7 linked regions of the Homo sapiens genome follow. The protein of the gene in region 4 purifies or fractionates together with the protein of the main gene of each other region. This does not show direct contact. Each region holds a gene or a part of one and is shown on either strand. Other genes may lie near its edges.

Region 1 (4,215 bases), on a different chromosome or scaffold from region 4:
CCTTGAGCCCAGGAGTTCAAGACCAGCCTGGGCAACATGGGGAAACCCTGTCTCTACAAAAAATACAAAAATCAGCTATGTGTGGTGGCACACGCCTGTAGTCTCAGCTACTTGGGAGGCTGAAGTGGGAGGATCGCTTGAGCCCAGGAGGTCAGGCTGCAGTGAGCTGAGACTGTACCACTGCACTTCAGCCTGGGTAACTGAGACCCTGTCTCAAAAAAAAAAAAAAAAAAAAGATTAAAACTTAGCAATAAGGAAAGAAACAACTCAGTTAAAAAAAAAAAAAGGGAAAAGGATTTGAACAGACATTTCCCCAGAGAGGGATGACAAATAAGCACATGAAGATGCTCAACGTCCCTGTCATCAGGGAAATGCAAATTGAAATGCTATGCGACACCCCTACACGCCCGCCCATCAGACAGGCCAAAGTTAAAGACTGATCTTAGAGAAACTGAAGGACTCATTCCCTGCTTGCCAGCATATAAAACAGTGTAACTACCTTGGAAAACAATGTGGCGGTTTCTTAAAAACTCAAACATATGCCTCCCCTATGATCCAGCCACTCTACTCCTAGGTATTAACCCAAGGGAAACGAAAGCCCGGATCTACACAAAGACCTGTCGGTACATGAATGTTCACAGCAGCTTTATCTGCAATAGCCAAAACCTGCAAACAACCCACATATCCATCAACGGGTGAAGGGACAGACTGCAGCGCACCTGGACACTGAAACCGCCTGGCAACAAAAAGGATGAATGACGGACAACACACGACGACACACGGGGATCACACAACAATCGTGCCGAGTGACAGATCAACAAGAATGCACATCCTGTGTGATTCCATCTACGTGGAATTCTAGAAAACCCAAAGCAACCTACAGGGACAGTAGACGGCTGCCTGGGCTCAGGGAGGGGCAGGAAGGTGTGATCACGAAGGAGCACAGGGACTGGGGGTGACGGGAACGCTCATTTCCTTGATTTCACGAAGGAGGAGCAGGGACTGGGGGTGACGGGAACGCTCATTTCCTTGATTTCACGAAGGAGGAGCAGGGACTGGGGGTGACGGGAACGCTCGTTTCCTTGATTTCACGAAGGAGGAGCAGGGACTGGGGGTGACGGGAACGCTCGTTTCCTTGATTTCACGAAGGAGGAGCAGGGACTGGGGGTGACGGGAACGCTCGTTTCCTTGATTTCACGAAGGAGGAGCAGGGACTGGGGGTGACGGGAACGCTCGTTTCCTTGATTTCACGAAGGAGGAGCAGGGACTGGGGGTGACGGGAACGCTCGTTTCCTTGATTTCACGAAGGAGGAGCAGGGATGGGGGGTGACGGGAACGCTCGTTTCCTTGATTTCACGAAAGAGGAGCAGGGACTGGGGGTGACGGGAACGCTCGTTTTCTTGATTGTGTGTTGCTTTCACAGACGTATAGCCATACTCCCGAACTTGTCCAACTGGACGCTTTAAACGATGTGCAGGTTACCGTGTTTATAATACCTTTATAATGCTGGGGGTTTTTTTGTTTGTTTTTTTTTTTTAAATGAGGTGACTAGGAGGAGGGGCCCCAGCTGCCCTGCATTCACTGCACTCACCCAAAGCGCTGGTGTTTGTTGAGGGTGTACAGCAGGTAGTCAGCCATGGTCTCCTCCCCGACCAGGTGGTCCAGCACCGTTCCTGTGGAAGCAGCAGCCGAGGTGAGCACTGGAAACAGCCACATCTATGTTCCTGCCAAGTTCAAACACATCCCTTCCAGTCCTAGCCCAAAGACACCGTGCCGTGAGGAAGAGGCCAGCCACTGACAAAGACACTAACCAAGAGGACGGCACTCGGCTGTGGTCCCGGCCCCCACTCCTGCCTGGCACCTGCGACCAACCTCTCTGCCCTGGTCCGTCAAATGGGGAAAGGGAAGGCCACTCATGGGGCAGGGTGGAATGGTGACCAGTGCCTGTCAGCTGTGCACTATTACAGCTCTCACACTAAGCTTCGAGGAAGGTCTGGCAGCAACCAGGTCAAAGGCAGTAACAACTCCCGTCTAGGGGCCCTGTGCCAAAGCCAGCCCTAAAGGTGGGGTGGCAGGGGCCCCGGTCCCAGCCCCAGCCCCAGCCCCAGCCCCGGCTCACCACACAGGGCCAGCTTCAGGCCTGTCTCCACACTTTCAATCCGAGGAGCCAGCACGCCAGGAGTGTCCAACAGGAACATCAGGGGCCGCTCAGAGACCTGTGTGGGCACAGAGGGCATGATCAGGCCGCGGTGGCAGCCTCCCACCCAGGTGGGCCACTCAGGAAGCCTGGGCAGCCCCTGGCACCCAATGCTCCGAGGAAGGCCTCAGGGACCCAACCCCATGGCAGCGTCACTCTCACCAAGCTCCAGGGTTCCCCAGAGGATCTAATTCCCACTTAATTTGGAGAATAAATAAAAGCGTCAGGTCCCAACAGCTTGTCTTCTGCTCCCAAGGAGAACACAAGGAAGGGAGTGGAGGGTGGGGCGGGGGGCGCCACACTCAGGTCTGTCCTGACCACTGCATGGCCCTGGACAGTGGCCTCCTCATCTGGAAATGGGGAAAACAGCGTGCCTTCCCCAAAGGTTTGGCGCAAAGACTATGACGACTGTGGAATAAGGGCAGGGGCAGTGCCTGCCCCGGGGGTGCTCAGCGGGGACACTGAGTGGAGGGGAGGGAAGCGTGGTCAGCAGCCGGAAGCCACACAGAGGTCGGCAGGTGCCAGACGCCTGCAGAGCTCTTGACAGAGTGCTGGGCCTGGCCCCTGAGGACTCCACCTGAATTTTGGACATCACAGCTCTGGTGATCCCAGGCTCGCCACCCACCCTGGTGGCTTTCCCTGTAGGAAAAGGAGAAAAGGAGGCTCAAATGTATACTAAACACAGAAGCTGCAGAACAAGTAGGGAGACGTATGTAACAAACACATCTGACCAGCCAAGCAGGGAGACTATGTAACAAACACAACTTACCAGCCAAGCAGGGAGACTATGTAACAAACATATCTGGCCAAAATGGAAACTAAAAGCCAGATGAGCTTCCCAAGGCTATAATTTGTTTCACTTTCAGTCACAAACCAGCTCACAGCAAGGGCACTTTCCAAGCCACACAGAGACTGAGATTCTTCAACAAATGCACCAGAACCTAACTCCCCAGGACTGGAAAGGCACTGTCAGACTGCGGAGGTCAGACCTGAGCTGCTCCTTCCACGCAGTCCCCCACCTCCCTCCTGGACCCACCCCTGCACCCCAAGGTCAGCCTGCCTCCCACAGCACTGTCCACAGGCGACTGGCTGCTCTAGGACCCAGCTCAGGGTGTGTCCCAAGGAGGCCACTCCACTGTGGACAAACAACCCAAGAATAAAAAACACAAGTGTCCATCCAGATGAATGGACAAGACAGGATGTGGTCTGTACACACAACGGGGTGATCAGCCTTAAAAAGGAATAAAATTCTGACACTCAGGACAACACAGACGAACCTTGAGGACATCACGATCGGTGACATCAGCCAGTCACAAAAGGCCAAGTACTGTGAGTCCACTTGGAGGAGGCAGTTACAGTCATCGAATTCACAGACAGAAAGTGGAACGAGGGGTGTAGGAGGCTGGGGGAGTGACTCTTTGTATTTACAGAGTTTCATTTTCAGGTAACCAAAATATTTGAAAATAGTGGTGCTGGCTGCATAACCCTATAAATGCACTTAATACCACTGATAAAAAATAATACGCTTAAAAATAAACTTAAAAGAATAAATGACTGTAACAATGCTCCAATTAGCACCAAAAACACCCTCTCTGTAAAATAACAGTTCACCGTAGTTTAAAGCCTTCAGATTTGCACATCATGAATGGGTTTGTTAATAAATGCCTTATTAATATGAAAAATGAAGCCAACAAGGACTTGAATTAAACTTGAAAATACTTAAGGAAAAGAGCCCACGGGGCAGTGAAGGGTGCTCGGGGCTCCTGCTTTGAATCAGAGTCTGAGAACAGGCACAGAGGGAGGAAAGGAGCGCCTGCGACTCCGGAGTCCAGGAACCCTCCAGCAAAGGCAAGGCGGACGCCATGGAGGAATGGCCTTGCAGCCTCCCTGCCTGATAATCCAGCCCCGTCTACTTCACACGCTTTGTATTCTCTGGATCAAAGGGATTTTTTTTCTTTTCTTTTCTTTTTTTTTTTGAGACGGAGTCTCGCTCTGTCGCCCAGGCTGGAACGCAGTGG
Region 2 (4,891 bases), on a different chromosome or scaffold from region 4:
TATAAAGAACTTCAGGCCTTATTGAGACAAACGTTTTTAAAAATCCAAATTTAAGGGGTAATAACACTTCTTTGGTACTTACTAATCAGGCCACATATGGAGTACATGTTCTACTCTGGACATAATAGATAAGCCAGAGAGCATCCAGAGAGGAATAACAAAAAGTCTAGAAACTCTAATATACAATTACTACAGATAAAGAGAGGATTTACAGCCTGGAAAAAAAAAACTGTAAGAATCTGAGAGCTGAGCACTGGCTTTAAACATAATATAGCACCTTCTCTTAATAGTTTTCCAAGCACTGTCACATACACACTCTTCTGAAATTCACAATAACCTTTTAAGATAGACAGGGTAGGTATCACTGCAGGTGAAAAAAACTGCCCAAAGTCAAATACCTAATAAGCTGGGTAGCCTCCTGCAGTTTAGCTGTTGTTGGTTTGGCTGCTGGCATCCAAACAACAGCTAAACCTGTTCAGGTAACAGTTCTGGTAACAGCACACCCCTGCTAGTAAAAAACCACTCTATGTGGTTGTGGTGGAACTGTCACACTTATCCCCCACCCCATGAGATAGGGATTATCAGACTATTTTGGACACCTCCTCTTCATCCAAAGGGTGGGCATGTGATCAATCGGAAGCCGCAAGCATGTGAACGTGGAGCTGCTGGTGACCATCACCCCCATCATCAACATCCCATGTAGAAGAGCCCAAGATTATAAGGCCACCAAAAAACAGCTAAGGAAAATGAAAATATCTCACACTGACCACGTCAAACCAATTGACCTTAAAGTATGATATATGTCTCTTTCTGGAGTTTGGTTACACAGATTGGTATAGTCTCCCTTTTCTACTTAAGCTATTTTGAGTTAGTTTCTGTTACCTGTATCAGAAAGAATCCCGAATAATACACCATGTACTCTTATTGTCTTTCTACTACAGCTCTTTCCACTACTAACATGAAACCTATGTCAAAACTAAGACCAACCTGGAAATGGGAAATTAACAGATTTTAGCTCACTATAAATATTTTTCAACCATTAGAGGCTGACCAAAAATGGAATTGACTGATTTATGCAACAATGTTCCTTATTGCTATAAACTGGTAATGAATCCTCACACTGAATGAAAAACTGAATTGGATATTTCTCAAGTTCCTTCCAATTATAAAATCACATGCTTCTAGGTGAGTATAAGGTGTACTTAACTGTCCTTCTTTAAAATGGTAAAGACATCCAAATGAGGATTTTGTTATTTCCTGCAAGAATCCCTGAATATTTAGTCGTATTATTCTAATGACACAAAATGAAACATTTCCTTAAAAAAGAAAAATAGCAAAGCTACAGTAAATGAAGAGTATAGTCTTGGAATTAGAAGTGAGTTTTACTGGCTGGGCGCGGTGGCTCACGCCTGTAATCCCAGCACTTTGGGAGGCCAAGGCAGGCAGATCACCTGAGTCTGGAGTTCAAGATCAGCCTGGCCAACATGGTGAAACCCCATCTCTACTAATAACACAAAAATTAGCCAGGCGTGGTGCCACGTGCCTGTAATCCCAGCTACTCGGGAGGCTGAGGCAGGAGAATCACTTAAACCCGGGAGGCCAAGGTTGCCGTGAGCCAAGATCGTGCCATTGCACTCCAGCCTGGGTGACAGAGCAAGACTTCGTCCCGAAAAAGAAAAAAAAAAAACAGTGGGTTTTTTAATTTTTGCCACCGAATAGCTGAGTTTAGCTTGAACTACTCAAGCTACCCTTGGACTACCCTGTTCCCTCATCTATAAAATGGAGTAACAGTTATTTCCTTCCACACCTACGCTACAGGGTTGTTTCATATATCAAAGAGCATATGAACATACTCTCAAATTTAAACACCCATACAAATGTTAAATTACAATAGCTTTTTTGGCAGAATCCTTACTCAAATTTTCAGCGTTACTTAGAAATGTTCAACAGAAGTAGCTTCCACTAAATACAATCCAATCAATATTTGAATGAAATACATAAAGATTTCTCACTGCCTGCCAATGTAAGTCTTTTATACAGTCTGATAAAGACACCAGCTTATTTTAGGGAAAAAATAGCTCCAAGGAATCGTAGAAGTCAATACATTTTGTTTAATAATTTGACTAGAAGTCTAAATTAACTGAGCTAGTGACCTTGCCTAAGTTATTTACCTCTTTGAACCATTTTCTACATCTGTAAAATGGACACAGTGATACATTTCTTGCAAGATCGTTTTAAGAACTGTAAATAGAATACACAAGCTCTTGAGTCACAAGAGAGGTTCAATAACACTGGCTTCTCAATACACAAAGAAGCATATAAATGTAGAACGAACGCGGGACAACAGCCTGTTGCAGTGAATCCAAATCTGTTACCAGACTGATTTGGTTCAAAATGGCCAAAAAGAATAAAGTAAACGGCAGTACATTTCATAGACAGAACCCTATGTCTAGGAACCAAGAATCCTCTTGATTCATCAGGCTACAATATAACTCGGCCTCCAGCAACAACTTAATGTATCAAAATCAGAAATATACGTACACGATGCAGCGACTGGCTCAGGTGTGTAGCATTACTATCATTGGGAACACTATTTCGTCAAACTGTAAAGTGCAAGCAAACTGGGTTCCTGACCTGAATTTCATGGAAGTCTAAACAACTCCATTACTGTACACAGGAGTCGCCCCAAACAAACATCACACATCTCACTTCTGCCTCAGCAACGGCGGCGACCCTGGGTTCCCCTACAGAGATCAGAGGAGAGGAGAGGACAGGACACAGCCCCACCCTCTTGCCAAAGGGTCCACAGCCGTTTCCACAGGCCACGTGTTTCCCCGTGATCCCAGACTCCTCGCCCGCTGTGGGACGGAACTACAGGGCAAACCGGCGCCATCACCTGTCTCCACGCTCCCTGAAGGCTGCTCGTCTCTCCTAAGGTCTTTGGCCACAGTTCCTGGGCAACTCAAAAGCCTGACGATAGGCCGCTGGACTCGAGTTCTTCTCCGGGCACACAGGTTCAAACGGGTCAAGAGCCCCACGCCGGGAACCGCCATTGCTAAAAAAAAAAAAAAAAAAAAAACAGCACTAGCGCGAAGCTGAAAGGTCAGCGCGTTTTCGCGCATGCGTCGGGGGGGAGGGGGGGGGCAAAAGAAATGGGAAGCCTCGAGGGTCAAACTAGGCGAAAGAAGTTCGCTTTTAGAGGAAGAGAGGAAATTGAGGCCGGAAAGAAGATACCTAAGCTTTCAGACATGGTTTACTTCCACAGTCACACAATTTACCAAATGAAAAGTTCCATAGAAGGAGCGCTCCACCTACTCTTGTAAATAGCATCATGAAAATAGAACCAGAGCCCGGGCGCGGTGGCTCATGCCTGTAATCCCAGCACTTTGAGAGGCTGAGGGAGGTGAATCTCCTGACGTTACGGGTTCGAGACCAGCCTGGCTAACATGGCGAAACCTTGTCTCTACTAAAAAATACAAAAAAATTAGCTGGGCGTGATTACATGCCTGTAATCCCAGCTACTTGGGAGGCTGAGGCACGAGAATCACTTGAACCCAGGAGGCGAAGGTTGCAGTGAGCCGAGATCGCGCCACTGCACTTAAGCCTGTGCAACAGAGCGTGACCCTGTCTCAAAAAAAAAAAAAAAAAAAAAGTTAAAATAATGGAAAGGCTTTTAACCTCTCTGAAAGGGGCACCAGGAGCAGGCAGGGCATCATCATCTTCCTTGAACCATGTGAGGACATTTTACAACCTCTGCCAATATGCCTCAATTCAAATTAAAATTCAAGTGGTTTTGCCAGCCCCTCCTCCAAGTGAGAGGTACATACCTCATCTTAAAGCCATACGAAAGGCATTGGAGAGGACTGGTTCAGTCTTCTCATTTTGGACATGAGAAAGTGGGGCACAGATCAGACAACGACTGGCTATAGGTCACACCTGGGGAGTCAAAGTTTAAAGTCAGAGCTCTGCCCTTGATTCAAGGCTCCTCCTCAGTGCCTGTGTCATAACCAGTGGCCCTTGCTCGGGTGCCTGGGAAAAGGACATACGAAACAGTGCAAAGAAGCCTGCAACTGAAGGCAGCCTCCCCGGGGGAATACACTGCTGCTGGAGGCGAAAGGAAAAGCAAGGGGCCTCGCAATCGGAGCGTGAGAGAGGACAAACCAGCACCGGAACTGACTAGCCAGCTCTGTGTTAGCATGGTGCTATTGCCTTGCAGGTATTTTCCTTTTTAATCATCTCAACAAATCTGAGTGATTAAACCCATTTCATGGATGAGAACACGGAGGCTTAGAGACAGTAAGTAACTTGTCTAAGGTGGCCTCATTAGAAGTTGGCTGTGCTGGCTGGGTGTGGTGGCTCACGCCTGTAATCCCAGAACTTTGGGAGACCAAGGCGGGAGGATCACCTGAGGTCAGGAATTCCAGACCAGCCTGGCCAACATAGCGAAACCCTGTCTCTACTACAAATACAAACATTAGCCAGGTGTGGTGGTGGGCACCTGTAATCCCAGCTACTTGGGAGGCTGAGGCAGGAGAATCACTTGAACCCAGGAGGCAGAGGTTTCAGTGAGCCAAGATTGTGCCACTGCACTCCAGCCTGGCAACAGAGCAAGACTCTGTCTCAAAAAAAAAGTTGGCTGTGCCATTTGACCCCAGGTCAGTCCCCAGATCCTGGGCCTTCCACTCGGACACACACTCAAGGCCACCCTCAGGCCACACAGAGTCCTGCCACTCCCACATGGATGTTGAAGAATCTCAAAGTTAGATAGAAGTATATTTGATTTTGATACTTCCAAGGAAAGTCCTGCGTAAGCAATGAGTTTGGGGATGGATGTGAGGACTTTTTAATTTTTGTGGGGGATATTTAATCCCTTTAGCAGAATAAAATGTTC
Region 3 (4,215 bases), on a different chromosome or scaffold from region 4:
GCCAGGCTGGTCTCGAACTCCTGACCTCAAGGGATCAGCGCTGCTCAGCCTCCCAAAGTGCTGGGATTACAGGCATGAGCCACGATGCCTGGCCACGTTGAATTTTTTTTTTTTTTTTTTTTTTGAGATGGAGTCTCACTCTGTTGCCTAGGCTGGAGTGCAATGGCACGATCTCAGCTCACTGCAACCCCCGCCTCCTAGGTTCAAGCAATTCTCCTGCCTCAGCCTCCCGAGTAGCTGCGACTACAGGCATCCACCACCATGCCTGGCTAATTTTTTGTATTTTTAGTAGAGACGGGTTTCACCATGTTAGCCAGGATGGTCTCGATCTCCTGACCTCATGATCCACCTGCCTTGGCCTCCCAAAGTGTTGGTATTACAGGCATGAGCTACCGCAAGTGGCCTGTTGAGGATTTTTGTGTCTTTGTTCAACAGAGATACTGGCCTGTAGTTTTCTTTTTTGTTGTGTCTTTGCCTGGTTTTGGTATCAGGGTAATGCTGGCTTTGTACAGTGATTTAAGAAGAGTTTCCTCCTCTTCGATGCTCTGGAGTAGTTTGAGCAGAATTGTTGTTCTTTATATATTTGGTAGAATTCAGCAGTAAAGCCATCTGGTCCTAGACTTTTCTTTGTTGGGAGATTTTTTGTTACTTATTCAGTCCGGTTACTCCTTACTGTTCTATTTCTTCCCGGTTTAATCTTGGTAGGTTGTATGTGTCCAGGGGTTTATCCATTTCCTCCAGGTTTTCCTATGTGTTAGTGTACATTTGTTTATAGTAGTCTGTGATGATCCTTTGTATTTCTCTGTTGTCTGTTGTATGTCACCTTTCTCTCTCTTTTTTTTTTTTTTTTTTGAGATGGAGTCTTGCTCTGTTGCCCAGACTGGAGTGCAGTGGCCTGATCTCATCTCACTGCAAACTCCACCTCCCAGGTTCAAGCAGTTCTCTGCCTCATTCCTCCCAAGTAGCTGGGGTTACAGGTGCCCGCCACCATGCCTGGCTAATGTTTGCGTTTTTAGTAGAGATGGGGTTTCACCATCTTGGCCAGGCTGGTCTTGAACTCCTGACCTCGTGATCCACCCGCCTTTGCCTCCCAAAGTTCTGGGATTTTACAGGCGTGAGCCACCGCACCCAGCCCCATGTCTCCTTTTTCATTTCTGATTTTGTTTATTTGGATCTTCTTTTCTATTTTCTTAGTCTAGCTAAAGATTTGTTTTCACTGCATATGCATTTACCTTCTTACATTATCTCAGACTTTCCTGGCTGCACAGACTAGATTAAACTCTTTATTTTCCCCTTGGTAACACCCATCACAGTTATTTCTTTTCTTTTTTTTTTTTGAGACAGATTCTTACTCTGTCGCCCAGGCTAGAGTGCAGTGGCACAATCTCTGCCCACTGTAACCTCCACCTCCCAGGTTCAAGTGATTCTCCTGCTTCAGCCTCCCAAGTAGCTGGGATTACAGGCGCCCACCACCGTGCCCAGATAATTTTCGTGTTTTTAGAGATGGGGTTTCGCCATGTTGGTCAACCTGGTCTCGAACTCCTGACCTCAGGATTTGCCAGCCTCCACCTCTCAAAGGGCTGGGGTTACAGGCACGAGACACTGCACCCGGCCCCATCACAGTTATTTCTTGCTTAACATAAAATCTACCCTACTAGGTGTCAGCTCCAAGAAGGCAGAGTCCAGATTTCCCCAGGGTCTAACACAATGCCTGCTATATAACAAGTGCTCAGTAATATTGGTGCAATTGAATTGGTTTGATTCAGTTATTTAAATTTTGTTTCCCCACCTCCACTCAGTTAATCTTTCTTACATGAAGATTACAACACTAAATTTTCAGTCTTAGGACATAAGGACAAATCATAATTTTACAAATAAAAGGGATTATGGGGGCTTTGAGAGTTGTGAGTTTAGATTTAAAATATAGATGTAATCTTTATCAACGACCTCATGTTACTTTTTTTTGAAAACCCTTTTATTTTGAAAAGTCATAAAGTATCATGAAGAATTACAGCATGCTCTTCATCTAGATTTCCCAACGTTAACATTAACATTTTGCTACAGTTGCTTTATATATCCTATGTATATATATGTAGAGGAAAAGATGCATCTTTTATCTCAATATTTTAGTATATATTTCCCCAAAACATGGATAGTCTCTTAACATAACCAACACAGATATCAAAATTAGGGAATTAACATTGATTCCATACTGTTAACTGTCTATAGAACTTATTCCTAGGTGGAAAGAGGAAAAAAAAAAAAGGACCCAAGATCTAATCTGAGATCACATGTCACATTTAACTGTCATGTCTCTCTAGTTCTTGTTCTGTGTCTTTCATGACATTTCATGACATTGCTTGACATTCATGCAGTACAGGTTTATTTTGTAGATGGTCTCTCTGGGTTTGTGGGATGCATTGTCATGATTAGATCCACGTTATGCATTTTAGGTAGGAATATCACAGAAAGGATACTGTGTTTATTTCAGTACATCATTTCAGAAGTCACGTGATACATCTCTGTCCCATTACTACTGGTGATGTGTAACTTTGGTCACTTTCTTGGTTAAGGTGGCATCTGTCAGTTTTCTCTATTGTAAAGTTACTTCCCTTCCTCCCCACTAATTGTTATTAATAAGTATCTTCTTTTTCTATTTTAATTAACTTAAATTTCTGGGTTTTTTTTTCTTTTAATACTTAATTTTGAGGTCCTGACCAAAGAGCAGATTTGTACTTGGAAGGAAAAGACCAGCTCGGGGGTTGGTTTCAGTCATCCTTATTAACAAGTGTGGCAGCAAGGAAGAGAGCACCTTATAAGTAAGTATTTATGCCTGAACCAACCTGCTGAGTACCTGCCAGTGTGTGAAGCACTATGCTGAGTACTACAGAGATGATAAGGCACCACTCTTGATTGCTTACAGTGTCCTGTAAGAATTTGAAGTAAAAAAAGAGAAAGGAAAAAGGAGACAACACCAAGGTGTCTTGTGAGTGTGATGCAGATCATAACTCTTTGAAGAAAAAGTCAGCATTGACTGGAGTAGTTGGGGGAACTTATGTAGTTCTTTGTTGTTGTTGTTTTTTTTTTTTTTTTTGAAAAAGGATCGCATTCAGTCACCCAGGCTGGAGTGCAATGGTGTGGTCAGAGCTCGCTGCAGCCTCCGTCTCCTTGGCTCAAGCAATCCTCCTGCTTCAGCCTCCTGAGTAGCTGGGATTACAGACATGCACCACCACACCTGGCTAATTTTTAATTTTTTTTTAGAGGTGCGTTCTCCTCCCATTGCCCATGCTGGTCCCAAACTCCTGGCCTGAAGCAGTCCTCCTGCCTTGGCCTCCCAAAGTGGTAGGATTATAGGCGTGAGCCACCATGCCTGGCCTAGAACTAGATCTTGATCTATGGTAAAACTTGACTAGGAGGAATGTAGGGAAGGATATTCAAGGTTGAGAGAAGACAGCCTGAGTGCAGATGTCCTTTATATTTGTAATATCCACAGTGGCTAGTGAACTGAAACATTGCTTTCATGAATTTTATTAAATTAGGTATTCTCATTTAGTACACATAATTACTTTTTCAAACGTGTGGGTGAAAGTACTAATCAGAAAGATTCCTAAATAGCTTAGCTTAAGATTGTGGCTCTCTTAGGATAAAAACCCATCCCAGAACATTTCACATGTTTCTTTTTTTTTTGAGATGGAGTCTTGTTCTATTGCCTAGGCTGGAGTGCAGTGGTGCGATCTTGGCTCACTGCAGCCTCTGTCTCCCGGGTTCAAGCGATTCTCCTGCCTCAGCCTCTCGAGTAGCTGGAATTACGGAGCATGCCACCATGCCCGGCTAATTTTTGTACTTTTAATAGAGACGGGATTTCACCATGTTGGTGAGGCTGGTCTCAAACTCCTGCTCTCAAGGGATTCACCCTCCTGAGCCTCCCAAAGTGCTGGGATTACAGGCGTGAGCCCCCACGCCTGGCCCTTTTACATGTTTTTGTTTCTTAACATGCGTTTTAAAGACCAGTAAAAGGGCAGATCCTATTTTTTTCAAATTGTCTTTTGAAAATAATTTTGAGATGATAATCTGCTCTTTTTAAGACATACTTTTTCCTGGTTTTATTTTTTCATTTAAAATTTTTTTTTTTTTTTTTTTTTAGTGAGTTATATAGTTTTTCCGCTATCACCACAAGAGGTTTTATAACATTTCCAACACACTAAAAAGTTTTCT
Region 4 (4,215 bases):
CCCCACTGAGTCCCGGGCACGGGTCAGGCTAACCGCGGGAGGAATTTAATCTAGAGTTTAACTTGTGTGGCTGACTCCACTGAGTCCCGGGCACGGGTCAGGCTAACCGCGGGAGGAATTTAATCTAGAGTTTAACTTGCGTGGCTGTCCCCACTGAGTCCCGGGCACAGGTCAGGCTAACCGCGGGAGGAATTTAATCTAGAGTTTAACTTGTGTGGCTGTCCCCACTGAGTCCCGGGCACGGGTCAGGCTAACCGCGGGAGGAATTTAATCTAGAGTCTAACTTGTGTGGCTGTCCCCACTGAGTCCCGGGCACGGGTCAGGCTAACCGCGGGAGGAATTTAATCTAGAGTTTAACTTGCGTGGCTGACTCCACTGAGTCCCGGGCACGGGTCAGGCTAACCGCGGGAGGAATTTAATCTAGAGTTTAACTTGTGTGGCTGACTCCACTGAGTCCCGGGCACGGGTCAGGCTAACCGCGGGAGGAATTTAATCTAGAGTCTAACTTGCGTGGCTGTCCCCACTGAGTCCCGGGCACGGGTCAGGCTAACCGCGGGAGGAATTTAATCTAGAGTTTAACTTGCGTGGCTGTCCCCACTGAGTCCCGGGCACGGGTCAGGCTAACCGCGGGAGGAATTTAATCTAGAGTTTAACTTGCGTGGCTGTCCCCACTCAGTCCCGGGCACAGGCCAAGCTAACCACGGGAGGAATTTAATCTAGAGTTTAACTTTAAATCAAGAATAGTAATCATCCCTCCCTAAAACGAATCCCCTCCTTGCTCAAGACCGAAGCCACCTCTGTGAAGCTTGTGAAGGGCCACAAGATTAGGATGATGGGAGGGGCCTGAATTCTGCTCAGATGTAGGTGTCCTGAGGAGAACCAGCCCGCAGGCCTTGCTTCCCCAGCTTGCCCTGCTGTAATTCCCTACTGCTCAGGACTCACGCAGCCAGAGGTCACGAGATTTGTGACCGCCCCAATTGCTCCCCAATAAGATAACGTCAATAGTACAACCTAAGAATGGTCTTTTGGGATGTTTTTCAGACTTTTGAGTTCTGGCAACCTACAGACTCCACCTGGACCTGAGACTCATGACTCAGCTGATCCCGTGGCTCCACGCAGAGGCGGACTCAGGGGACAAAAATCGTTGACACCCCATGGTCCGTCTGCAGCCGATCAGCAGCAGGCATTCCCTAGCCCCTGCCTGCCAAATTGCCTGTAGAAACTGTAGCCTCTGAGTTCTCTGGGAGATTGAGTTGAATAATAACTCCAGCCTTTCTGCTTGGCTAGCTCTGTGTTAAACTCTTTCTCTACTGCAATACCACAATTGCAGTGAATTGGTTTTGTCTGTGCAGTGGGCAGGAAGAACCCATAGGTGGATTACACTGAGGAGAAACAGATCTGGAAGGTGGTGGAGGCTCCAACTTCTGTACTTCTGGCAGCTCAGAAAGAAGCTGATTCAGCAGGTCTGTGTTAGCTCAACATAGTCTGCTCTACTCCAGAGATAAAAGCTGAGAAGGCTTCTCTGGGAGCTTCTGTGTTTTCACAGCGTGTTCTCTCCCTCCTTCAACTGTGGCATGGGGCATGCAGTCCCTACCCAGCCTGGGTGCTCCTCACACCCTGCTTACAGGTTCTTCCCCCAGTAGCCCTTACGGTACCCACGGACACACATGGATGCAGGGTTGTGATCTTGACCCCTTTGCAAGGCCCATGTTCCATGAGCCAGGTTATATGATTTCAGCATCCCCGCTTACAGTCAGGACGTCATTGTAATCTTCATTTTCTTTACACTGATGGAAGATATACTCCACTCCTAGGAAAATGTCTCCCAAATTGTAGTCATCTGGAAAATCAGGCTGGGGAAATTCACCTGCTTTCAGATGCTAAAAAATGAGGAAATGTAGACTTAGAGAACAGGAAACGTAACCCAACCACAGGTTGACAGGTTTCATCCTGGTTAATCCCAAGGCAAATAAGCACTTATCTCTGAGCCAAATCACTTTTTTTTTTTTTTTTTTTGAGACGGAGTTTCACTCTTGTTGCCCAGGCTGCAGTGGAATGGCGCGATCTCGGCTCACTGCAACCTCTGCCTCCCGGGTTCAAGTGATTCTCCTGTCTCAGCCTCCTGAGTAGCTGGGATTACAGGTGCATGCCACCGTGCCCAGCTAATTTTTGTATTTCTTTTTTTTTTTTTTTTCCTGAGACAGAGTTTCCCTCTTGTTGCCCAGGCTGGAGTGTCCGCCTCCTGGGTTCAAGCAATTCTCCTGCCTCAGCCTCCCGAGTAGCTGGGACTACAGGCATGCGCCACCACGCCCGGCTAATTTTGTATTTTTAGTAGAGACTGGGTTTCTCCGTGTTGGTCAGGCTGGTCTCAAACTCCCAACCTCAGGTGATCCACCCGCCTTGGCCTCCGAAAGTGCTGGGATTACAGGCGTGAGCCACCGCGTCTGGCCTAATTTTTGTATTTTTTAGTAGAGATGGGGTTTCATCATATGGGTCAGGCTGGTCTCGAACTCCTGACCTCAGGTGATCTGCCTGCCTCAGCCTCCCAGAGTGCTGGGATTACAGGCGTGAGCCACTGTGCCAGCCACCCAAATCACTCTTAAGATGCATGTCTCAGGCCAGAGTGGCAGCTGGGCCTGTGGCGGGTGGGTTGCCCAGCCAACCGTACACAAGTGCCCTAAATTGTTTCCATTGTGAAAATTGTCAGAATAGCCAGGCGTGGTGGCTCACAGCTGTAATCCCAGCACTTTGGGAGGCCGAGGCGGGCAGATCAAGAGGTCAGGGGTTTGACACCAGCCTGACCAACATGGTGAAACCCCATCTCTACTAAAAATACAAAAATTAGCCAGGTGTGATGGCACATGCCTGTAACCCCAGCTACTCGGGAGGCTGAGGCAGGAGAATCGCTTGAACCTGGGAGGCGGAGGTTGCAGTGAGCCCCTAGACTGCGCCATTGCACTTCAGCCTGGCTGACAGAGCAAGACTCCGTCTCAAAAAAAAAAAGGAATTTGTCAGAATAAAAATGGAGCCATTAGGGTTATACAAACAAACCAAAAAACCTGACAAATAGAGCTGGGGAAAGCTATGAAGAGAGGATTCTCATACTTCCATGCCTGATAACAAAAACTGTCACTAAAGATGGCAAAAACTGCAACAAAGGCTATGACAACCTTACACACATACAAAACTGCAACCTTGCACAAAGGCTATGACAACCTTACACACACACACGAAACTGCAACCTTGCACAAAGGCTATGACAACCTTACACACACACAAAACTGCAACCTTGCACAAAGGCTATGACAACCTTACACGCACACAGAAACTTCTGCAAGGATAATCTGCCCAGCAACTGCCTGTCTAACCTTGGACGGACATTAATCTTGTTATTGATCTTTGCAACCAAGGATCATTATCTCAAAACAATTATGTTTTTTTCCTTTAAAAACCTTTGCCAGGCGGGGCTCAGTGGCTCACGCCTGTAATCCCAGCACTTTGGAAGGCAGAGGCGGGTAGATCACCTGAGGTCAGGAGTTCTAGACCAGCTTGGCCAACATGGTGAAACCCCAACTTTACTAAAAATACAAAAAAAAAAAAATTAGCCAGATGTGGTGGTGGGCGCCTGTAATCCCAGCTACTCGGGAGGCTGAAGCAGGAGAATCGCTTGGACCTGAGAGGTGGAGGTTGCAGTGAGCCGAGATTGTGCCATTGCACTCCAGCCTGGGTGACAGAGCAAGCCTCCGTCTCAAAAAAAAAAAAAAAAACAAAACCCTTGCCTTCCTTTACCTCCCTGAATATGCGAATATCCACACAGTCTACTATGGCATGTGGCATGTATTTTCACTGCAATGCTCTATCCCAAATAAACATCCTTTTCTTTAAAAGCCTGTTTGTTTAGGTTGCTATCACCTTGTCAAATGGCTTTTCATTTCTTTCATCCCTCCCAATGCAGAATCACGCAGATCCACAACTTCTACAGAGTTAAATCATCACATGGACACGACTGTATATTCCTGTTCTTTCCACTTGGTATTTTGTCCTAAAGAGTCTTTCACATTTTCCACATAAAGACTATAAAGACCAGTCCACTTAGTTAAGGACTGTTCACACTAAGCCAGTCACCTATGGCTGGATATTTAGGATGCTCCTCTTATTTTCCTATTACAGAAAATGGTAACTTTTTTTTTGAAAAAGGGTGTTACTCTGTGGCCC
Region 5 (3,948 bases), on a different chromosome or scaffold from region 4:
ATCAGGACCCTAAATGGTTATGTCCCCTCTCTCCTGTCTCTTCCCACTTTTCTTTCTTTTCTTTTCTTTTTTTTTTAAGACGGAGTCTCGCTCTGTCACCCAGGCTGGAGTGCAGTGGTGCGATCTTGGCTCACTGCAACCTCCGCCTCCCAGGTTCAAGAGATTCTCCTGCCTCAGCCTCTCTTGACCTGGTGATCTGCCCGCCTCAGCCTCCCAAAGTGCTGGGATTACAGGCGTGAGCCACCGCGCCCAGCCCTCACCCATTTCATACTGACCAAATCCTCAGCTGTCATTCAAAACCATTTCTTTTTTTCTTTTTTTCTTTTTTTTTTTTTTGAGACAGAGTCTTGCTCTGTCGCCCAGGCTGAGGCTAGAGTGCAGTGGTGCGATCTCAGCTCACTGCAACCTCCGCCTCTCGGGTCCAAGCGATTCTCGTGCCTCAGCCTCCTGAGTAACTGGAGTAACTGGGGCATGCAGCACCATGTCCGGCTAATTTATATTCACATTTATATTTATATGCCCGCCTCAGCCCCCCAAAGTGCTGGGATTACAAGAGTGAGCCACAGCGCCCGGCCTTACTTTTTATATTTTTAGTAGAGACGGGGTTTCACCATGTTGGCCAGGCTGGTCTCAAACTCCTGACCTCAAGTGATCCGCCTACCTCGGCCTCCCAAAGTGCTGGGATTACAAGCGTGAGCTACCGCGCCTGGCTCCAAAACCGTTTCTGTTGTCACCTCCTCGAGAGGTGTTTCCAGACCTCCAGGCTGGGTGCTGGACCTTCCCTGGACTCCCCCAGTGAACTGGGCTACCTGGATGACTTTCTGAGTCTCTCTCCCAGAGATAGCCTCTCCCCTCAGCTGCTAACAAGCCTCCCATGGCTCCCCAGTGCCCCAGGACAAGACCCTAGCCTCCTTCCGGCATTCCAGGCCTGCCTGGGTCTAATGAATACTTGCTAAGCATTTTTCAAAACCCAAACTTATTTTTGTAACCTGAACATCTTCTGTGATCCTATTCCTTCTGTCCCTGTACACATGGTTCCCAGGACTGGAAACAGTTTGCTGACTTTTGTACCCAGGAAACCCCCTCCTCCCTCCTCGTCAGACCTAGTTGAAGGGTCGCCTCCTCTGCGAAACCTTTCTTTTTTTTTTTTGAGATGGAGTTTCGCTCTGTCGCCCAGGCTGGAGTGCAGTGGCGCGATCTCGGCTCACTGCAAGCTCTGTCTCCTGGGTTCTCGCCATTGTCCTGCCTCAGCCTCCTGAGTAGCTGCGACTACAGGCGCCCGCCACCAAGCCCGGCTAATTTTTTTTTTTTTTTTTTGTATTTTTAGTAGAGATGGGGTTTCACTGTGTTAATCAGGATGGTCTCGATCTCCTGACCTCGTGATCTGCCCGCCTCAGCCTCCCAAAGTGCTGGGATTACAGGCGTGAGCCACCGCCTCTGGCCTCTGTGAAGGCTTTCACAATGCCCTGGGTCACCTCACCAGAGAACATGCAGCTCCGAATACTGGGGCTCCCACCAGCCTGGGAGACCCAGGAGAGCAGGGCTCGGGGCTGACTCATCTGTGTCCCCAGCTTCTGCCAGCACAGGGCCTGGCCCTCAGGAGACCTCACAGGATGTGGCTGAAAGGACCTGAATGCACCCCCAGCTGGGGCCACATTCCTGTCCCAACACGCCAGTGCCCACCCTCTGCCTTGGTTGCCCAGGAGACCCAGCTGTCTCCTTCCTGCCCTGCTGAGCTGAGGCCACTGGGAGACAGATTTACACAGAAAGTCCACACGGGGGTGAGGGGCTTTGGAGGCTCAAACGACTGTGGGAGCTGGGTATGGGGAGCGCAGCCCAGCCTGGGGGATCAGGGGAGGCTTCTGGGGCGAGAAGCCAATGAGCTGAGTGTAAGCTTCACTCCTGGAGGCTTCCAGGGACCAGTCCTGGTTTCCCCACTGACCTCCACCCAATGCCTTCCCATCTGTGAGCCTTTTTGTCCATCTGAAAAATAATCCCCTCCTCCTTCCTTCCATGGTTTGTTTTCAGGGACCAGGGAGGTCACTTAGCACTGAGCCCTGCACGGTGCTGATGATGTCACCTTCATGTGACATCCAGAGGCATGGCCGAAAGCACGCACGCTGGTCCCTGTGTCTCCAACGCCCAGTGCGCCAGTCGTTCTGGGGATGGGGGTGCTACTTACCCACCTAACTTGTAGTTGCCGACCCCGCCCACCCAGGCCCGGATGAAGGCTGGGTCGGCCAGGAGGGAGACCGGGGTCACGGAGCCTCCAGGGAAGTAGGCACCCACTGGGCAGAGAATGACGAACAGGAGCGCGCGCGTGGGCTGGCTGACACCCAGCGAGGGCTGCGACGGGCAAAGGGACAGCGTCAGGAGTCCAGGCCCCCAGTCCCTTCCCGTCCCCAGGCCCAGGCCTCCAGGACCCCACCCCTGCCCTGCAGAATCCAACCCCCGCAGCCCAGCTTCCCAGCCCTGGAGTTGGGCCCACCTCGTTCCCAATGAGCACAGGCCGCACATAGAGGCTGGTGCCGGCGGCATCGGGGACCCAGTCCTTGTCCACTTCGATGAGCCGGCGGATGCACTCCAGCAACTCCAGCTTGTCGAAACTCTGGGTGGGATTCTGAATGAGTCAAGGGGCCCTTGCTGCCCCGGCCCCAGCCCTCCTCCCCACCCCGGTGGACCGGGACCCCTCACCGGCAGGCACAGGCGCATGGCTGAGCGCAGCATCCGGTCCATGTTGAGCCAGGGGCGGAAGAGGCGCACCTGCTGGTCTTTGCCTTTGAACGCCTTCATGCCCTCAAACAGCTGCGGGGACACGCGGGTGGGGAGGCTCAGAGACTTCTCCAGACAGTCATGAGAGACACCAAGACAGACAGAGACAGATACACAAAGACACAGACAACTGAAAGATGGAGGCCAAGAGGAGAGCACCGGGGAGATTTAGCAGCTGGGTCAGAGAGATGGAGAAAAAGAGAGACAGATATAGACAGGGAGACAAACAGGTAGAGACACACGGAGACTCTAGAAAGCAAAGGACACGACCGGGCTCAGTGGCTCACTGTAATCCCAGCACTTTGGGAGGCCGAGGCAGGAGGATCACTTGAGTGTAGGAGTTCGTGACCAGCCCAGGCATTATAGCAAGACCCCATCTCTACCAAAAAATACGAAAATTAGCCAGACGTGGTAGCACGTGACTGGAGTCCCAGGTATTTGGAAGGTGGTGGGAGGATCACTTGAGCCTGGGAGTTTGAGACTGCAGTGAGCCACGATCATGCCACTGCACTCCAGCCTGGGACCTAGTTTTTTTTTTCTGGAGACTCTGTCCCTGATCACTGCCCCATGGTTCCAAGTTTGCTTGTTCAGCATCTGCTCCACTGCAGAGTGGAAGAGCCTGGAAGGCAGGGATTACCCTTGACACGTTTACCAGACAGCCTCTCCTGCAGTCCCATGCACCAGGGTAGGCAGCGCTTGGCACAGAGTGTTTTTTTGTTTTGTTTTGTTTTGTTTTGTTTTGAGACAGGGTCTCACTCTGTCACCCAGGCTGGAGTGCAGTGGCGTGATCTCTGCTGATTGCAACCTCCGCCTCCCAGGTCCAAGTGATTCTTGTGCCTCGGCCTCCTGGGTAGCTGGGATTACAGGCGCCCACCACCACGCCCAGCTAATTTTTGTATTTTTAGTTGATCCACCCGCCTCAGCCTCCCAAAGTGCTAGGATTACAGGGGTGAGCCACTGCACCCAGCCAGACTTTTTTTTTTTTTCCCATAGTGGGTTTTTGATGAATGAATAGATAAATGAATGGAAGACAAGCAAAACTAGCTACAATATTTTGGGGGGATAAAAACCACCACCACAAAAATGAGGGGCAAGATGGGGCAGGGGCAGGGAGTAGCCATATCAGGTAGTAAAACATTATAAATCTACAATACTTAAAACAGAGTGACACTGCTA
Region 6 (4,215 bases), on a different chromosome or scaffold from region 4:
CGCGAGTCATTCAAGTTTTCCCAGTTAGCCTGAGTGATGGAACTGTAATTCAGAGATTTACACGCACATATTTTAAACACATAAAGGCTAACATCAAAGAACCTTAACTTGACTAGATTCAAATTAGTTACTCTTGTTTTGGGTGCTTGGTTAAAATCTTTAGTGGGAGGAGGCTAATACAACTGGTTAACTTGAGGTTTAGAGTTTTTCTGGCTTTGGGAGGAGGCACAATCAATGTGGGCAAGGGAAAGTTGGGGGTAGGTATTAAAAAATACAAGCTGTTGAATAAATGGTAGCTGTTATTAGCTTTGGTGCTTTCAATTATGTCCAACTCCAAAATGAACACAGACAAATGGAAAACTAGGAAGACAACACACATTTTAACATTTTTTTCCTCTCCTCTTTAGCCTTGCTTAACAGCCCGAAGAGAAACTTTTCCAAATGCCCAGAACCTGCAACAGAAGACAACAGTCAAACTCCAGCCTCACCTTTTTGTACAGCTCCCAAGAGCCTCATTAGAGAGAAGTTGGAGGTTGTAAGTCCGGCAGGGGGTTCCAAACTCCTTATATGAGTTGAGCTTCGTTCCAACAAAGAAACTATGGTTCCAAACAGAAGTCACTGTCATTGTTTACCGAAACGTACCCCCTTCCCTAACATCCAGTGCCGAAGGATCCACGGCTAAGCCTCAGGAAGAGCATATTCTAAACAGGTGCATTAAAGATTTCTGCATTGGACTGCAGCTAAGTGTTGAAAGTCAAATCAATTACAGGTTGAAAAAATGTTTTTCAAAAGGCCAAGGGACCCCTGAAAATCAGGGCGTCTACTTGTTTTTTGGTCTGCTGAGTACCCTGGCCAGGTGATTGATGCGCATGTGCTTCATGAAGTGAGTCTCTTACATCATCTTTTTGTTTTTGACACAGTCTCACTCTCTCGCCCAGGCTGGAGTGCAGTGGCATGATCTTGGCTCACTGCAACCTCTACCTCCTGGGTTCGAGTGATTCTCCTGCCTCAGCCTCCCGAGTAGCTGGGATTACAGGCACACGCCATCACGCCAGGCTAATTTTTGTTATTTAGTAGAGACGGGGTTTCGCCACTTTGGCCAGGCTGGTCTTGAACTCCTGACCTCATGTGTTCTGCCCGCCCCAGCCTCCCAAACTGCTGGGATTATAGGCATGAACCACTGCGCCTGGCCTCTTTTACATATTCTATCATCTGCTAAACATGTCAGCTAAAAGCGTGACTTTCTCCTTTTATGATTGTGACTTGCCCACAGTCAACATGCCTGTTCTATCACCCTATCGCTATTATTGGCCAGCAAACATTTCCTATTTATGTTCAGTGCATGAATAACTTAAGCAGAACCAGAAAAGAGGGCTTATGCAGGCCGGGCGCGGTGGCTCACGCCTGTAATCCCAGCACTTTGGGAGGCTGAGGTGGGTGGATCACGACGTCAGGAGATTGAGACCATCCTGGCTAACACTGTAAAACCCCGTCTCTACTAAAAAACAGAAAAAATTAGCCGGGCGTGGTGGCGGGCGCTTGTAGTCCCAGCTACACGGGAGACTGAGGCAGGAGAATGGCGTGAACCCAGGAGGCGGAGCTTGCAGTGAGCAGAGATCGCTACACTGCACTCCAGCCTGGGCAACAGAGCAAGACTCTGCCTCAAAAACAAAAAAAAGAGGGCTTATGCTCCTTAATCACATTTCTCCTGTACATGGTTTTCTCCATGTTTTATGACAGGTAATCTCTACTACTGATAGTTCTCTAGTCTTGGTTTGGTTCATCAAGATAAAGAAGAAATTAAACACCGACAACAGGTTTAGCAAGTGTGGTAAAAGTTGCTGTGGATGTAAAAATATCCAAATGATCATTAAAGAACAATGAAAAGAATCATGCTGGCTTCCAAGAAATTGCACAGAAGATAATTCTCTTGCAAGGTGAAGGTTAGTCTCTTAAAAAAAAAACCCATTCATCTTGGAAAAAATTTGAGGAAAACGGTGTAAAGAGACAACTTCCTGAAAATTGCAACCATGTTGTCAGCAGTGTCAGGATCACGTGGCTCCCTGACCTTGCCCTGCTTTCTCCAGTCAGGTGAGCCTACTGTCCTGACCTGCAGTTAATTCAGTAACTGTTAGCTCACTGGCCCTGCCTTTTAAGTACCAAAGGAATGAGTTGGCTTCCTGAGAAGGGCAAATGACCTATCAAAGGTCTTGCCTGAGTGAGAAAAGGTATAGCCCATTCTCTTGTGCAAAGATTCCAATAAAACTCTAATTTGCAGTCATTGGAGACAGTCATTGCCTGGTGAAATTACAAAGCTTTTTAAGGAGCCAATGGCACCATCTTTTAATCCCTATAGATTGATATGGCCTTGAAGTCCTTGGCCAATGGAGGGATCAGGGCTTGACCTGATCCTAGGGTCTCTCTCCTCTAGTATCTTGTGTTCATTTGGTGGTAACATCAAAGTCTGAACACTGATCCTGGATCCAACTTCAATAGTTTTTCAGTTTATAATAGAAGTAGAGGCCCTATGATGATTACACCTTATTTACTGTCTTGATGTAGAAGTCCCAAACTAAGTACAACATTTATTAGTTACAGACTATGAGCAATAAAAGGGATTAAAATAGTTTCTCACCACTATTTGGAAGGAACTTGTTACTGAAGAAAAAATTCTATTTTCCCTCCTATATCCTGTCTCATAACCTTGGTAATTTAATGTTTTAAGTTACTGTATCTTATTATTGTATTCTTAGGAGCTAACAGTGAAATGTATCAATAACATATCAAACAAGGTATTGACTTCTATCTGTGGTCTTTAAACTCTACTTGAGGCTTACTGTTTGGGAGAGTTAGTAGTTAATACCTCCAGGTTCACCTGACTCTTCTATCTGTGGTCTTTAAACTCAACTTGAGGTTCACTGTTTGGAATAGTTAGTAGAGTCAGACGAACCTGGGTTTGAATCCTGATTCTGTCACTTACTGCATGAACATAGGGAAGTCACTTAATGTCTGAAGCTCAGGCCAGGCCTGGTGGCTCACACCTGTAATCCCAGCACTTTGGGAGGCCAAGGCGGGAGGATCACCTGAGGTCAGGAGTTCGAGACCAGCCTGGCCAACATGGCAAAACCCCATCTCTACTTAAAAAAAAAAAAAATTAGCTGGGCGTGGTGGCAGGCACCTGTAATCCCAGCTACTCTGGAGCCTGAAGCAGGAGAATCGCTTGAACCTGGGAGGTGGAGGTTGCAGTGAGCCGTGATTGTGCCATTGCACTCCAGCCTGGGAGACAGAGCAAGACTCTGTCTCAAGAAAAAAAAAAAAAGATGTCTGAAGCTCAGATTCCTCAAGAGGAATAAGAGGGTGGGACAGTGGTGTCACTCAGAGCTGTTATGAGGATTAAATGACATAATGTATCTAGCATAACGATAGTCATAGTCATCACAGATAAACGTCAGGTCCCTCACTTTTTCCTCTAAAATGAAAAGTGTGTATCAAGGACACTCCTAAGCACTATAAAATGTAGTACAGAAAATACACAAGTCCTTCAATTTGGTAGAGAGATTTATCATGGGGGGAGTGTGTGCATCTGCAACTGAAAAACACAGAAGGCTGGACACGGTGGTTCACACCTGTAATCCCAGCACTTTGGGAGGTTGAGGCGGGCAGATCACCTGAGGTCACGAGTTCAAGACCAGCCTGACCAACACGGAGAAACCCCATCTCTACTAAAAATACAAAATTAGCCGGGCGTGGTGGCGCATACCTGTATCCCAGCTACTTGGGAGGCTGAGGCAGGAGAATCGCTTGAACCCAGGAGGCAGAGGTGAGCCAAGATCACACCACTGCACTCCAACCTGGGCAATGAGCAAAACTCTGTCTCAAAAAACAAACAAACAAAAAAACAAAACACACACACACACAGAAAAGTATGGCACTATAACAAACATGGTTTTAGTTATGGTGTATTTTCTACAACATGGTTTAGTGGAAAAGATTAAACTAGGCCTCAGGAAACTAGGTTCTCCTTGCAGCTCTACTATTTATTGGCAACACAAACTTGGACAAATCACTTATGCTCTCTGTGCCTGTTTCATCATCCACAAAATAGGATAAATTCACTCTGCCCACCTCTCTGTCCACCTTGTGCCCAAAATAAAAAAAATACAGATGGAGGCACTCTGAAAACCACAAAGCAACACAAATGTTAATATAATTAAA
Region 7 (4,215 bases), on a different chromosome or scaffold from region 4:
AAATAATAAGCTAAATTAAGATCAAACCACATCATAAGGCAATTTGCCCAATACTTTTATTATTATTACTGTGTGAGACTACCTTTTTTTTTTTTTTTTGCAGACGAAGTCTCACTCTGTTGCCCAGGCTGGAGTGCAATGGCACTATCTCGGCTCACTGCAACCTCCACCTTCTGGGTTCAAGCAATTCTCCTGCCTCCGCCTCCCAAGTAGCTGAGACTACAGGCATGTGCCACCACGCCCAGCTAATTTTTGTATTTTTAGTAGAGACAGAGTTTCACCATGTTGGCCAGGCTGGTCTTGAACTCCTGACCTCAGGTGGTTCACCAGCCTCAGCCTCCCAAAGTGCTGGGATTACAGGCGTGAGCCACCGCACCTGGCCTAAGACTTCCTATCTTTAGCCTGCTTGTAAGGTTGGCCCTTAACTGGAGTCTGGGAACTTGACCAGTAAACAGCTTTCTATACTTATATAAAACTTTTCCTAAATGATAAGAGTGGGTCACTGTACCTAAACTGCTTATATAAACAATGCGGTTTCTGCTGAACACCTGCTTTCCTTCTGAATTTTTGGTGCATGCTAGGCAGAAGTTATCTAAGTCACTAACCCCTGATAAAAACTCTGGACTGCAAGGCTCAGGGGAGCTTCACTGATGGACAGCACTTTGCACTTATTGTCAATAATTATTGTTGGAAGAATTAAGCATGAACTGTAACACTCCACTAGGAGAGGACTCTTGGAAGCTTGTTCTTGGTTTCCTTTGGACTCTACCTCATGCGCTTTTTCCTTCTGTTGACTGTGTTGTATCTTTTGCTGTAGTTAAGGCTTAATCATGATTACGACTATATCCTGAGTCCTATAATTCTTTCTTTGAATCACCAAAGCTGAGGGTGGTTTTGGGGACCCCCCCAAAACAATTACCTCTAATTATATATAGCTACCTAATATTAATTACAATTAAATTACCGTAGTGAAGACCCCAGATGCTGTGGACCAAGACAGGCATGGAATCAATGGCATGGGCTTAGGCCAGTTGGATACCGCTAAGGAAGCCATCTGTAATATAACAGATAGAGAGCGTCTATTTAGAGTTTCTATTCATTAAAATAAAAATATTTAATATTAATAAGCATTCCGTGCAGTAAATAGTTGGTCAGATAAACACAAAGTCTGCAAACATTCGTGAGAATGTCTAGCCACCTCATTAAATTCCCCAAATCATAAATTCAACATTTAATTTCCCCCTTAGATAGCAATAAAATGTAATACAAAACTTTAACCTCAAGACCATTCGCTGAGAGCTACTTTCTACTGTGTAAATATGGAGCAAAGATGCTGAGATGTAGATGCTGGGCAGCAGGGTAAACACACTCATTACTTAAGTGACTTGCCAGATAGAGCAAAATCACAACTATAAAACATCAGACCATTGAGGTTGACTGAGTATGCCAAGAATTTGGTGAACTACAAAGCAGATTATATAATAGATCTAAAATAATGTAATGTGTGTGATTAGAGAAGGTAAAATCACTCTCCCTTTTGGAGAAGGGAAAACTTTATCTTTTCAAAAAGTTACTTTCCCTTCTGGGCTGGAGGAATCAGAAGGGAAAGGCAGGCTTCATGAAATGGATGAGTCTTCTAGAGGAATGAAAGATAGGGTCTTGTCTTCCAGAGAAAGAATCAGTATGATCAAAGGCAAGACTGTGAGAATGCACAGGGTCTCATAGGGAAACAGCCAATATACTTCAGTTGGGATGGTCAATAGGCACACATGGCCAATGGAGTGAGGGAGGTAAGTAGGGCTAGAAAGATTGATCAAGATCAGATTAGAGGTCCTTTGTTCTATAGATAATCGGGAATTAATAAAGAGGTCTGAGCAAAGGAGTAGTATTGTCAAAGAAGTGATTCAAAGAAGGTAACATGATAGTAGTTTACAGGATTGAATAGAGAAGGGGAGAACTGAGGTAGGAGACCAGTTAATAGGCAGTAATCCAGGTGAAAGTTATAAGGACCTGACCTAGGTGATAACAATGGAAACACTACTAGGTAGGAAAATAAATCCTTTTCCATCTTTTGTTTCACTGTCAGGTAGTTGTTTTGAATTTTTTTTTTTTTTTTTTTTGAGATGTAGTCTCACTCTGTTGCTCACGCTAGAGTGCAGTGGTGCGATCTCAGCTCACTGCAACCTCCGCTTCCTGGGTTCAGGCGATTCTCCTGCCTCAGCCTCCTGAGTAGCTGGGATTACAGGCACGTGCCACCACACCCGGCTAGTTTTTGTATTTTTAGTAGAGACGGGGTTTCACCATGTTGGTCAGGCTGGTCTTGAACTCCTGACCTCAGGTGATCTGCCCGCCTCGGCCTCCCAAAGTGCTGGGATTACAGGTGTGAACCACCGTGCCCAGCATAGTTTTGAATTTGAGTAAGTTTTTGAGCTTAATTTTCTAATTCAAGAGGCATACAGAAACTTCATATAATAATAATTATTACTTTGAGATAGAATCTCGCTTCTGTCTGGGTCACCTAATCAGGAGTGCAGTGGTATGATCACAGCTCACTGCAGTCTCAAATTCTGGGGCTCAAGTGATCCTCCCACCTCAACCTCCCATGTAGCCACAACTACAGAGATGTGCCACCATGCCTGGCTAATTTTTTAAACAATTTTTTTTGTAGAGACAGGGTGGGTCTTACTACTATGTTGCCTAGGTTGGGGTATTATTATTTTTTAGGCCAGGTGCAGTGGCCCACACCTATAATCCCAGCACTTTGGGAGGCCAAACTGTGTGGATCACTTGAGCCCACACACAAACAAAATACTAATAATTTTTTAAAAATGTACTGAGTGACTAATATGTGCCAAGTAATAAACCAGAGCATATTCCTGGCCCTCAATATCTCAAATGCTTCATGGAGAAAACAGACTGCTAAACAAGTCAGTAAAGTACAGTAAAAAGTTACTAATCAGAGTTTGAAGTATAGTCTGGAGGTAAGGCTGGGTGTCACAGCTGAAACAGAAGGGTAAGCTGTTACTCCTAGGTGAAAGAGAATAAGGGAGCACTAGAGAGATGCTAGCACGTGACACAGCTGGAGCCCAGTGTGCACGCAAGCTTTTGGCAGGTTTTGAACAAGACAGAACAAAGACTAGATTTAGAAAGATCACTGTAGTTAGGGTGTGGAGGAGAAATGGTTAAGACAAAGATTAATAAGAGAAAAGACTAGAGACAGAGAAAGCAATTAGGAATCCATTTTAGTACACTCTAAAAGGCAGACAAAAAGTAAAATAGGTTAGTGGTACTAGGGAGACAGATAAATGGAAAGTATTTTCCAATTCAGCTATCTTCACCAATGTAACAGCAAAATTGGGCATTTATACTTGAGACTTGAAAAGTTAAATTTTATAATTAATTTCTGTTAAATCTAATATCTGAGATACAACTGTGGAGTAGTACAATCAATAAATCGTACAAAAAATTAACATCATTACTTCATAATTGGAGTAAGAGTTTGGAATCTGTTTCTGCTTCCTACTTTTACTAAAACTAATTCTATACCTAAAGTGAATTTTTAAAATAACCAGGTTCTCTAGATCTTACAAACATAAACATAATTAAATGTAAGCAGAAATAAAAAGGCTTACGTGTCCTCCCATGGATATTCCAGTCATTCCTAAAGGGCCGTAACCTTCCCTCTCTAGCCAGTGCAAGAGAGCTGCAGATTCTAAAACAAGAGCTCCTCCCATCACAAAAAGGTCGGACACATTTTTTAAGCTGGACCTTCTAGCCTCACAAAACAAAATAGAAAATGATTATTTTATGTATTTACATGCTAATATATGCAAATTTACAACAGGCTGCCAGACTTCATGCATCTCTTCTAAAGGACCAGATAGTTAAGTAAAACAATGTAATAAATTGGAATTAGGGCCAGGCGTGATGGCTTACGCCTGTAATCCCAGCACTTTGGGAGGCTGAGGCAGGGGGATCGCTTGAGGTCAGGAGTTCAAGACAAGCCTGGGCAACATGGTGAAACCTTGTCTTTACTAAAAATACAAAAATTAGCAGGGCATGGTGGCGCATGCCTGTGATCTCAGCTACGTGGAAAACTGAGGCATGAAAATCGCTTGAACCTGGGAGGCAGAGGCTGCAGTGAGCTGAGACTGCACCACTGTACTCCAGCCTGGGCAACAGAATGAGACCCTGTCTCAAAAAGAGAAAAAAAAA

What was found.
Region 1: the proteins of YBEY (region 4) and MTG1 purify together in Homo sapiens (affinity purification with mass spectrometry; 2 studies listed by BioGRID and IntAct, with this or other methods). This does not show direct contact.
Region 2: the proteins of YBEY (region 4) and MTPAP purify together in Homo sapiens (affinity purification with mass spectrometry; 2 studies listed by BioGRID and IntAct, with this or other methods). This does not show direct contact.
Region 3: the proteins of YBEY (region 4) and IARS2 purify together in Homo sapiens (affinity purification with mass spectrometry; 2 studies listed by BioGRID and IntAct, with this or other methods). This does not show direct contact.
Region 5: the proteins of YBEY (region 4) and BCAT2 purify together in Homo sapiens (co-immunoprecipitation; 3 studies listed by BioGRID and IntAct, with this or other methods). This does not show direct contact.
Region 6: the proteins of YBEY (region 4) and MTNAP1 purify together in Homo sapiens (affinity purification with mass spectrometry; 2 studies listed by BioGRID and IntAct, with this or other methods). This does not show direct contact.
Region 7: the proteins of YBEY (region 4) and ABHD18 purify together in Homo sapiens (affinity purification with mass spectrometry; 2 studies listed by BioGRID and IntAct, with this or other methods). This does not show direct contact.

The regions. Positions count from the first base shown.
Region 1 is NC_000010.11:133,400,150-133,404,364, reverse strand, and holds part of MTG1 (mitochondrial ribosome-associated GTPase 1), read right to left. Parts: intron 2,837-4,215; coding exon 2,775-2,836; intron 2,217-2,774; coding exon 2,120-2,216; intron 1,674-2,119; coding exon 1,592-1,673; intron 1-1,591. UniProt on the Homo sapiens protein: Plays a role in the regulation of the mitochondrial ribosome assembly and of translational activity. Displays mitochondrial GTPase activity.
Region 2 is NC_000010.11:30,346,223-30,351,113, forward strand, and holds the start of MTPAP (poly(A) RNA polymerase, mitochondrial precursor), read right to left. Parts: upstream 3,057-4,891; 5' UTR 3,054-3,056; coding exon 2,897-3,053; intron 1-2,896. UniProt on the Homo sapiens protein: Polymerase that creates the 3' poly(A) tail of mitochondrial transcripts. Can use all four nucleotides, but has higher activity with ATP and UTP (in vitro). Plays a role in replication-dependent histone mRNA degradation.
Region 3 is NC_000001.11:220,131,692-220,135,906, forward strand, and holds part of IARS2 (isoleucine--tRNA ligase, mitochondrial precursor), read left to right. Parts: intron 1-2,710; coding exon 2,711-2,819; intron 2,820-4,215.
Region 4 is NC_000021.9:46,288,999-46,293,213, reverse strand, and holds part of YBEY (endoribonuclease YbeY), read right to left. Parts: intron 1,881-4,215; coding exon 1,752-1,880; coding exon of another isoform or gene 1,725-1,751; exon of another isoform or gene 696-1,724; intron 1-695. UniProt on the Homo sapiens protein: Single strand-specific metallo-endoribonuclease involved in rRNA maturation.
Region 5 is NC_000019.10:48,797,493-48,801,440, forward strand, and holds part of BCAT2 (branched-chain-amino-acid aminotransferase, mitochondrial isoform a precursor), read right to left. Parts: intron 2,806-3,948; coding exon 2,695-2,805; intron 2,609-2,694; coding exon 2,489-2,608; intron 2,347-2,488; coding exon 2,183-2,346; intron 1-2,182. UniProt on the Homo sapiens protein: Catalyzes the first reaction in the catabolism of the essential branched chain amino acids leucine, isoleucine, and valine. May also function as a transporter of branched chain alpha-keto acids.
Region 6 is NC_000017.11:73,238,625-73,242,839, reverse strand, and holds part of MTNAP1 (mitochondrial nucleoid-associated protein 1), read right to left. Parts: exon of another isoform or gene 4,202-4,215; intron 740-4,201; exon of another isoform or gene 597-739; coding exon 489-596; exon of another isoform or gene 418-488; coding exon of another isoform or gene 408-417; intron 1-407. Other genes in the region: CPSF4L (putative cleavage and polyadenylation specificity factor subunit 4-like protein), read left to right, coding at 408-417. UniProt on the Homo sapiens protein: Critical regulator of mitochondrial DNA (mtDNA) abundance. Binds dsDNA throughout the mitochondrial genome without sequence specificity and controls mtDNA copy number by promoting its replication.
Region 7 is NC_000004.12:128,016,919-128,021,133, reverse strand, and holds part of ABHD18 (protein ABHD18), read right to left. Parts: intron 3,772-4,215; coding exon 3,633-3,771; intron 1,055-3,632; coding exon 965-1,054; intron 1-964.